Linked DNA regions of Homo sapiens. The protein of the gene in region 1 purifies or fractionates together with the protein of each later gene. This does not show direct contact. Each region holds a gene or a part of one and is shown in the gene's direction. Other genes may lie near its edges.

The links. Proteins that work in one complex are often made in the same cells at the same time.
Region 2: the proteins of NEK3 (region 1) and CDC27 purify together in Homo sapiens (affinity purification with mass spectrometry, with the first as the bait; one large-scale study listed by BioGRID). This does not show direct contact.

Annotation. Positions count from the first base shown.
Region 1 is NC_000013.11:52,135,480-52,139,136, reverse strand, and holds part of NEK3 (serine/threonine-protein kinase Nek3), read left to right. Parts: intron 1-2,234; coding exon 2,235-2,337; intron 2,338-2,877; coding exon 2,878-3,021; intron 3,022-3,273; coding exon 3,274-3,408; intron 3,409-3,657.
Region 2 is NC_000017.11:47,182,714-47,186,370, reverse strand, and holds part of CDC27 (cell division cycle protein 27 homolog), read left to right. Parts: intron 1-3,657. UniProt on the Homo sapiens protein: Component of the anaphase promoting complex/cyclosome (APC/C), a cell cycle-regulated E3 ubiquitin ligase that controls progression through mitosis and the G1 phase of the cell cycle.

The DNA of each region.
Region 1 (3,657 bases):
GAATCAATTTTCAGGCTGGCATTCGGGGTCCTGTTCATCTAGCCCTGGGCAACTGTGACATTCTTTTACACTGAAGCTTCCCTAAAGCTGTGGATATTAACAGCCGATCCATGTTTCAGTGTTGTCACACCCCCCTTAGCAAATTGTGTACTATTGATGTTTTTTTCAGTATTTCAGTCAACCTTTCTTTCTTTCCTTCTCTCCTTCTCTCTCTCTCTCTCTCTGTTGTCTAGGCTGGAGTGCAGTGGCGTAAACACCACTCACTGCAGACTCAACCTCCTGGGCTCAAGGGATCTTCCCACCTCAGCCTCTTGAGTAGCTGGAACTACAGGTGCATGCCACCATGCCCGGATAATTTTTTAACTTTTTTATAGAGATGAGGTCTCACTATGTTGCCCAGGCTGGTGTTGAACTCTTGGGCTTAAGTGATCCTCCCACCTTGGCCTCCTAAAGTGCTGGGATTTATAGGTGTGAGCCACTTCACCTGGCCTAACCTTTCAATTCAAAAAGGAAAAGATGTTGTATGACAACAAATTGCTCTCTTCATGGAATGTACTAGTAATTAAACTTTTAAATTTTTTGAATGAACCATAGGTTCTAAATAAATAACAACACCCCACCATTATGTTGCTACAAATGGAATACAGACCTCTATACTTTTTTTCTTTTCATTGTAATGTCTGTTTTTTCCAGTTTTTGAGGTATAATTTACATGCCACAAAATTTACCCATTTTTATGCACAATTTGATAAATTTTGGTGATGGTATTTAAATATCCATATAACCCCTGCCACAGTCATCATATAGAACTTCCAGGTGGGGCAGAGTGGCTTACGCCTGTAATACCAACACTCTGGGAGGCAGAGGCAGGAGCATTGATTGAGGCCAGGAGTTTGCGTCAAGCCTGGGCAACACAATGAGACCCCATCTCTACAAAAAATTAAAAATTTTAGGTGGGCATGGTGGCACATGCCTGTAGTCCCAGCTACTGGGAAGCTGAGGCGGGAGGATCGCCTGAGCCTGGGAAGTTGAGGAGGGCAGTGAGCTATGATCGCACCTCTGCACTCCAGCCTGGGCAACACAGCAAGACTCTGTCTCAAAAAGAAAAGAATTTCCATCCCCTAAAATGTTTCCTTGTGCCCTTTGCAGATGATCTGTGCCCACACGCTATAGTTTGATACCACCTGTAGTGAACACAGCAATATGTGTTCGCAAAATGAAAAGGGTGCAACATGTAAACAAAATGGAGAAAAGGCCAAAAAGTCAGTCAGGGAATGGAGGACTTGAGGTAGGAAAACTTGTGTGCAGGCCAGCAAAGGACGATGGCAATGAAGGCAGAGTTGAATAGCGCCCAGAGGAATGTGGGAGGCTGCTGCAGACACAGAAAGCAGTGATCCTCAATGGGAAGGAAAGACTGGAATCCCCTGGGGGGCTTTTCACAGCTGCCCCTCACCACTACTCCTCCAAGATTCTGATGTCATTCTTGAGTGTAGGAGGCTTTGAAATCTCTGCTGTAAGTGAGCTACCACTGTTAAGTGACAGATTTTTATGTTCCCTACATGTGTGGGAAGAGAAGTTTCAGAACCACTGCTTAGAAATAAGAAAACCCGCCATGCCACCCAAGCCTACTCTTTCTTTATTCATTCAATAAATATTTGAGAATTTGTTTGCCTGGGACTGTTTAGGCATTCAATATGTACTTCTTCTCAAAGTATATGCAGATTTAGTAAACCAGATAGTGTATTACTATATTTCACGAAATAAATCAAGGGCTTAGATAATTTGGAAAGATACTGAATTAAGTGGGAACATTTTGATTCTATATGGCAACTTTATAAAATATCTCATTTTGATATTATAGTTTGTAAAGCCCAGTACGGCAAACCATATTGAAATTTTTCATTAGTCTTTTCCTTAGTAAAGACTTACCAAATAGCTGTCATTTTAATATATCCTCTTCATATTTATAATAATTGATATTAATGGCTATTAATGTGTATGTCTATTAATATATACATGTATGTAGGTTTTTGGTTAATGTACATATATATGTTATTAAATACATATAGATATATATGGCTATTAATATACATGTCCTTGGGGTTCTATGATTATTCATGTATTTTAATCCATTAATTTTTATTTGAAATTAAAATGGCTGACTTTGCATATTTGTTTACCTTTTTGTGGCAATTCAAGCATTATTTAATCTGTATTGTTAATCTCTTTTAAAGCAAGAGGAAGAACAAGATAGAAAGGGTAGCCATACTGATTTGGAAAGCATTAATGAAAATTTAGTTGAAAGTGCATTGAGAAGAGTAAACAGAGAAGAAAAAGGTAAGTTATTCAAATTCTAATCATTTCTTAGGTGAGGAGTTGGGGAATACCAATTTTTATGTTACTAGGTCTCAGATATCATAAACAAGAGTACAAGCTGATATTTGTTTGCTTATCTAGTAACTTATTTAATGTTTTAGGAATATTTTATTTACCTACAACAAAAGAGAGAATAGCATTTATCAGTAAGAGTCATTAGAAAGAGCAGTATTTATTGTGCTATCCACCATAAAAAGCATAGCATACTGTGTGTATGTAAGTCCTCCCAGGGCTTCATTCTTGTATAATATAGAATATGTAACTATATACATATTATTTTTTTAACTCAGTCACTGTAATGGTTCGTTTTAATTTTTCATTTTGGATTTTTTTTTAAATTTCCTTTGCTACTTAGATTAGAAAGAACATTGATCTTTCAAACATAGATCTGAATATGAAAGAGAAAAGAAACACTTCCATATTTGTTAGAGTCTATGTGTGGACAGAGATGGATACATAATTTCACATGCTTGGCATTCCTTTTTCACACTTTAAAATCAGGTAATAAGTCAGTCCATCTGAGGAAAGCCAGTTCACCAAATCTTCATAGACGACAGTGGGAGAAAAATGTACCCAATACAGCTCTTACAGCTTTGGAAAATGCATCCATACTCACCTCCAGTTTAACAGCAGAGGACGATAGAGGTTAGTAGTCAGATTGAATACTATTATTTTATTAGAGAACTTTTTCTAATAGTTACTTAGTGCACTTAGAGCCTTTTAATGTCTGTGAAGGGTATTTGGCGTCACACATCAGAGCATTGCTCATACAGGTGAATGAAGCAGATTTTAGTTAACAGTCAAATATAACTAACTTCGCTTGAAAATATGATCTGGAAAGTACATGCTGAAAAATCTTTTTTTATTCAGCACTAATTTTTGTCTTTTTGCAACTAGGTGGTTCTGTAATAAAGTACAGCAAAAATACTACTCGTAAGCAGTGGCTCAAAGAGACCCCTGACACTTTGTTGAACATCCTTAAGAATGCTGATCTCAGCTTGGCTTTTCAAACATACACAATATATAGACCAGGTAATTCATGTCTGTATGTGACCTTGGAAACCCTTTGACTTTTTGAAAATTGTGGCAAATATATATAACATAAAATTTACATTTGAACCATTTTAAGGTGTACAGTTCAGTAGCACTAAGTACGTCACATTGTTGTACAGCCATCACCAGTTTCCATCCACAGAAATGTTCTCATCTTCCAAAACTCAATTCAAAGGGTTTCCCTCCTCCCAGAAACGCTTTGATTTCAAAGTTATAAAGTAATTCATA
Region 2 (3,657 bases), on another chromosome or scaffold:
TACATGATACTGTTTTAGAGATCATTAGATGGTGAAGGAGTACTCTTGGCTGGGGATAAAATGTTCAGGGACAGCATCTAACATGGATTCAAAGAGTAACATATTTTGGCTACTCAATGAGAAATTTAGATTTAATGTGCATTGGTAATGAATAACCATTATATGAGCAGAAGAGTTTTTGAGCAGAGGAATTATGTAATAAAAGCACCACTTTGGGAATATTTATCTGGTGCTGTTGGAAAGGGAGGAAGAGACAAGAGTTAGACATACAGACTAGTAGAATAATCCAACTGCATGATCATGTAGACCAGGGCTGCTTAATCTGAGCACTATTGACATTTGGGGCAAGCTAATACTTTGTTGGAAGCTGTGCATTGTAGAATGTTTTGTAGCATCCCTGGCTTCTAACCACTGGATGACCCCTCCATTTGTGACAACCAAAAATACCCTCTAGACATTGCTAAATGTTGGGGCATTAATTGGGAGTAAGAAGGCAAAATTGCCCAGAGTAAGAACCACTGACGTGCATCTAAACTAAATCAGTATCCTAGAAATTCAATTATAATGTATAATATGAAATTTCAACAGTGATTTTTTTCTTTGTATCTTCTTACATTGTCTGAAGCCTTTATTATCCATTTATTTTATGGTTTTTAAAAAAGGGCAGCTGACTGGGCACAGTGGCTCACGCTTGTAATCCCAGCACTTTCAGAGGCTGAGGCAGACAGATCACTTGAGCCAAGGAGTTCAAGACCAACAAATAAAATAAAATAAAGACAGCTTTTTTGACAAAAACAAGAACACAAAATGTATAAAAAATTTAACAAAAACAAGTAAACAAATTTTTTGTAATAAGCTTTCTCTAACAAAAAATTTATAATGATTACAGGCCGGGCGCGGTGCCTCACGCCTGTAATCCCAGCACTTTGGGGGGCTGAGGCAGGCGGATCACGAGGTCAGGAGATCGAGACCATCCTGGCCAACAGGGTGAAACCATTCCTTCTCTACTAAAAATACAAAAAAAATTAGCCGGGCATGGTGGCAGGCACCTGTAGTCCCAGCTACTCAGGAGGCTGAGGCAGGAGAATGGCGTGAACCCAGGAGGTGGAGCTTGCAGTGAGCCGAGATCGCGCCACTGCACTCCAGCCTGGGTGACAGAGTGAGACTCTGTCTCAAAAAAAAAGAGAAAAATTTATAGTGATTACATTTAAGTCTAAGTACAACTTATAGAGGTTTGTTTATATTTTAAATAATATTTTATATTTAAGAATAGCTAGCTGGTAAGGAATTTTGCAACTTTAAGCTGTTGGTTTATTTATCTTTTAAATTAGTGCACCTGGGGACTAACCCATTAATCAGTCAGATTTCTCTTAAACATTTTTTAGGGGAGAGGGAGAGGAGCGTTGTTCTTTTTGGCTTCATAACTTTCTTTTAGCAGCATTTCGTTCATCTGGCTTTAATTTGTAGAACTCTAGCGGTAATGCACTGGGTGTTCTTTTAAGGGAAGGCCCACACCATCAGTTGGGCAGAGGTGCTGATTTTAGCCCTGTTCATCATCAGCTACTAATCTGTAGTGCCTTAGAGAATAATCTGTTCTTCCCCCCAATCCCGGCACAAGAGACACTGTTAGTCAGGAACTTAGAATTGATTGAGCAAAGCGGGATGGAAGCAGTATGTGAGATTCTCGAGATGGCAAGTTTTTTCTGATGCTCTTAAGAACTGGTGATAAGGGAATGATGTTCTGAGCAAAGCTTGATTTTAAGTCAGAAATGGATACAACTCTTGAATATGATACCTTTTTTCCTTCTTTTTTCCCCCCGCCCTTGCCTCTTATTTCTTTAATTTTAAAAGGACAGAAAAAATTTCAAAGCTCTAGGACTTTTTGACTTTAGTATATGTGTGTGAAATTTTCCTAGTGGTCCATAGTAGTAAAATAGCTGGTAAATCATTTGAGTCTTTTGTGGCTTATATATTGCAAAATAAGCAGTTGTAGCAGGTATGCTGGGGAGATGTTATGCAACAGAAACTACATATTTATTGAATTTCTTTATATTAAGAGATTGGCAAGGAAAAGGTTTTCCAAGTGCTTAATGTATGATAGTATACTAGGAGCATTATAAATGGATCATTTCATTTAATCCACAAAACAACTCCAATAAATAAACTCCATTTATCAGATGAAGAGATTGAGGCTGAGAAAAGTTGAGTATTTCCCACAAAGTCCCACTACTGGAAGTGCTGGCACACAAATTTGAGCACGTCTCCAAACATCAAATCTTTGGTATCTTCATTCTACTCACCATTTTCTTTCACTTACAGCAAAATTAAACATGTAGGTTCTTAGGAAATCCCAGATTTCATAAAGGAGTAATTTGGTGGTAATTATTTGCATAATAAAATAATTCTTCTATTTATCACAGAGTTTCTTTCAATAGAGACTCCCAGAGATTCTTTATTATTAGATATACATCTAGGAATACAAAGAAACTTAATGCTAAGACTAACGTACAAGAGTGTCAACAGTGGAAGACTGCTAGAAATTAAAGATCATTTGCTTATTCATTCAACATATAAGCACCTGCTTTAAAAGCACATAATGGATACTGGGAGTATAATAATGAGCAAAAACAGACGTAGCCCCTACCTTGTGGAGTTTGTAATATAGTAAGGAAAACATCACTCAAATACTCTCCTAAATTAATACAGAATTATAGCAGTGGGAAGTATTACAAAGGAAAGGTACTTGGTGCAATTAGAGTGTATAATAATGGTGCCTAATCTCATCTTTTTCCTTGTATCTAGATAGGAATGGTAAAATTAGACATCTTTGAGACTTTATAAAATTTAAGCTATATAAACAAAGGTTAAACAAGAGGCTCTGGAGATCCCAAACTAAGTTCATTACTGTTCTTTCTTGAGGAAATAGAAAGGGCTAAGTCATTTACTACTTTTATTTTTAAAATTATAATTAATATACTCATTGCAGAATTATTAAACATTTACTTGTTTGTTCAACAAAATTTGTTGAGCCTTTACTGTATCTAAGGCATATTAATCACTTAATATAATTTAGATGTACTGGTACAATGTTAGCTAGTGATCAGTAACCAGATTTTACTGGTTTCCGTTGTAACCTTTTTAAATCATTCAACAAATTATAAGCTGGTGTATGTGCTAAAAATAAAAAATAACGCTTGTATCATGATCAGGTGTGAGATATCTCAAAAGTAGTTTATTACTAAAAATGATTTGACATTACCTAGTAAAGATGAACATATGCATATTCAACAACCCAGTAATTTTATTCCTAAATATATATCCTAATTTGGAGAGATTCTTTTTTGTGTTTTTTTGATGGGAGTCTTGCTCCTATTGCACTCCAGCAGCTATTCACAGGTATGATCATAGCCTTGAACTCCTGGACTCAAGCAGTCTTCCCAGCTCAGCCTTCTGAGTCGCTGGGACTAAAGGCTCACACCACCGTGATAGGCTGGAGAGATTCTTAAATATATACCCCAGGAGATGAATCTAAGACTGTTGCAGCATTGTTATAATTGGAAAAACAAAACAAAACAAAAAAACACCCTAGAAATAACCCAAATGTCCACATGCTGTAAAATAGATAAAATACATTTTGGATTTTGATATGTTTATACA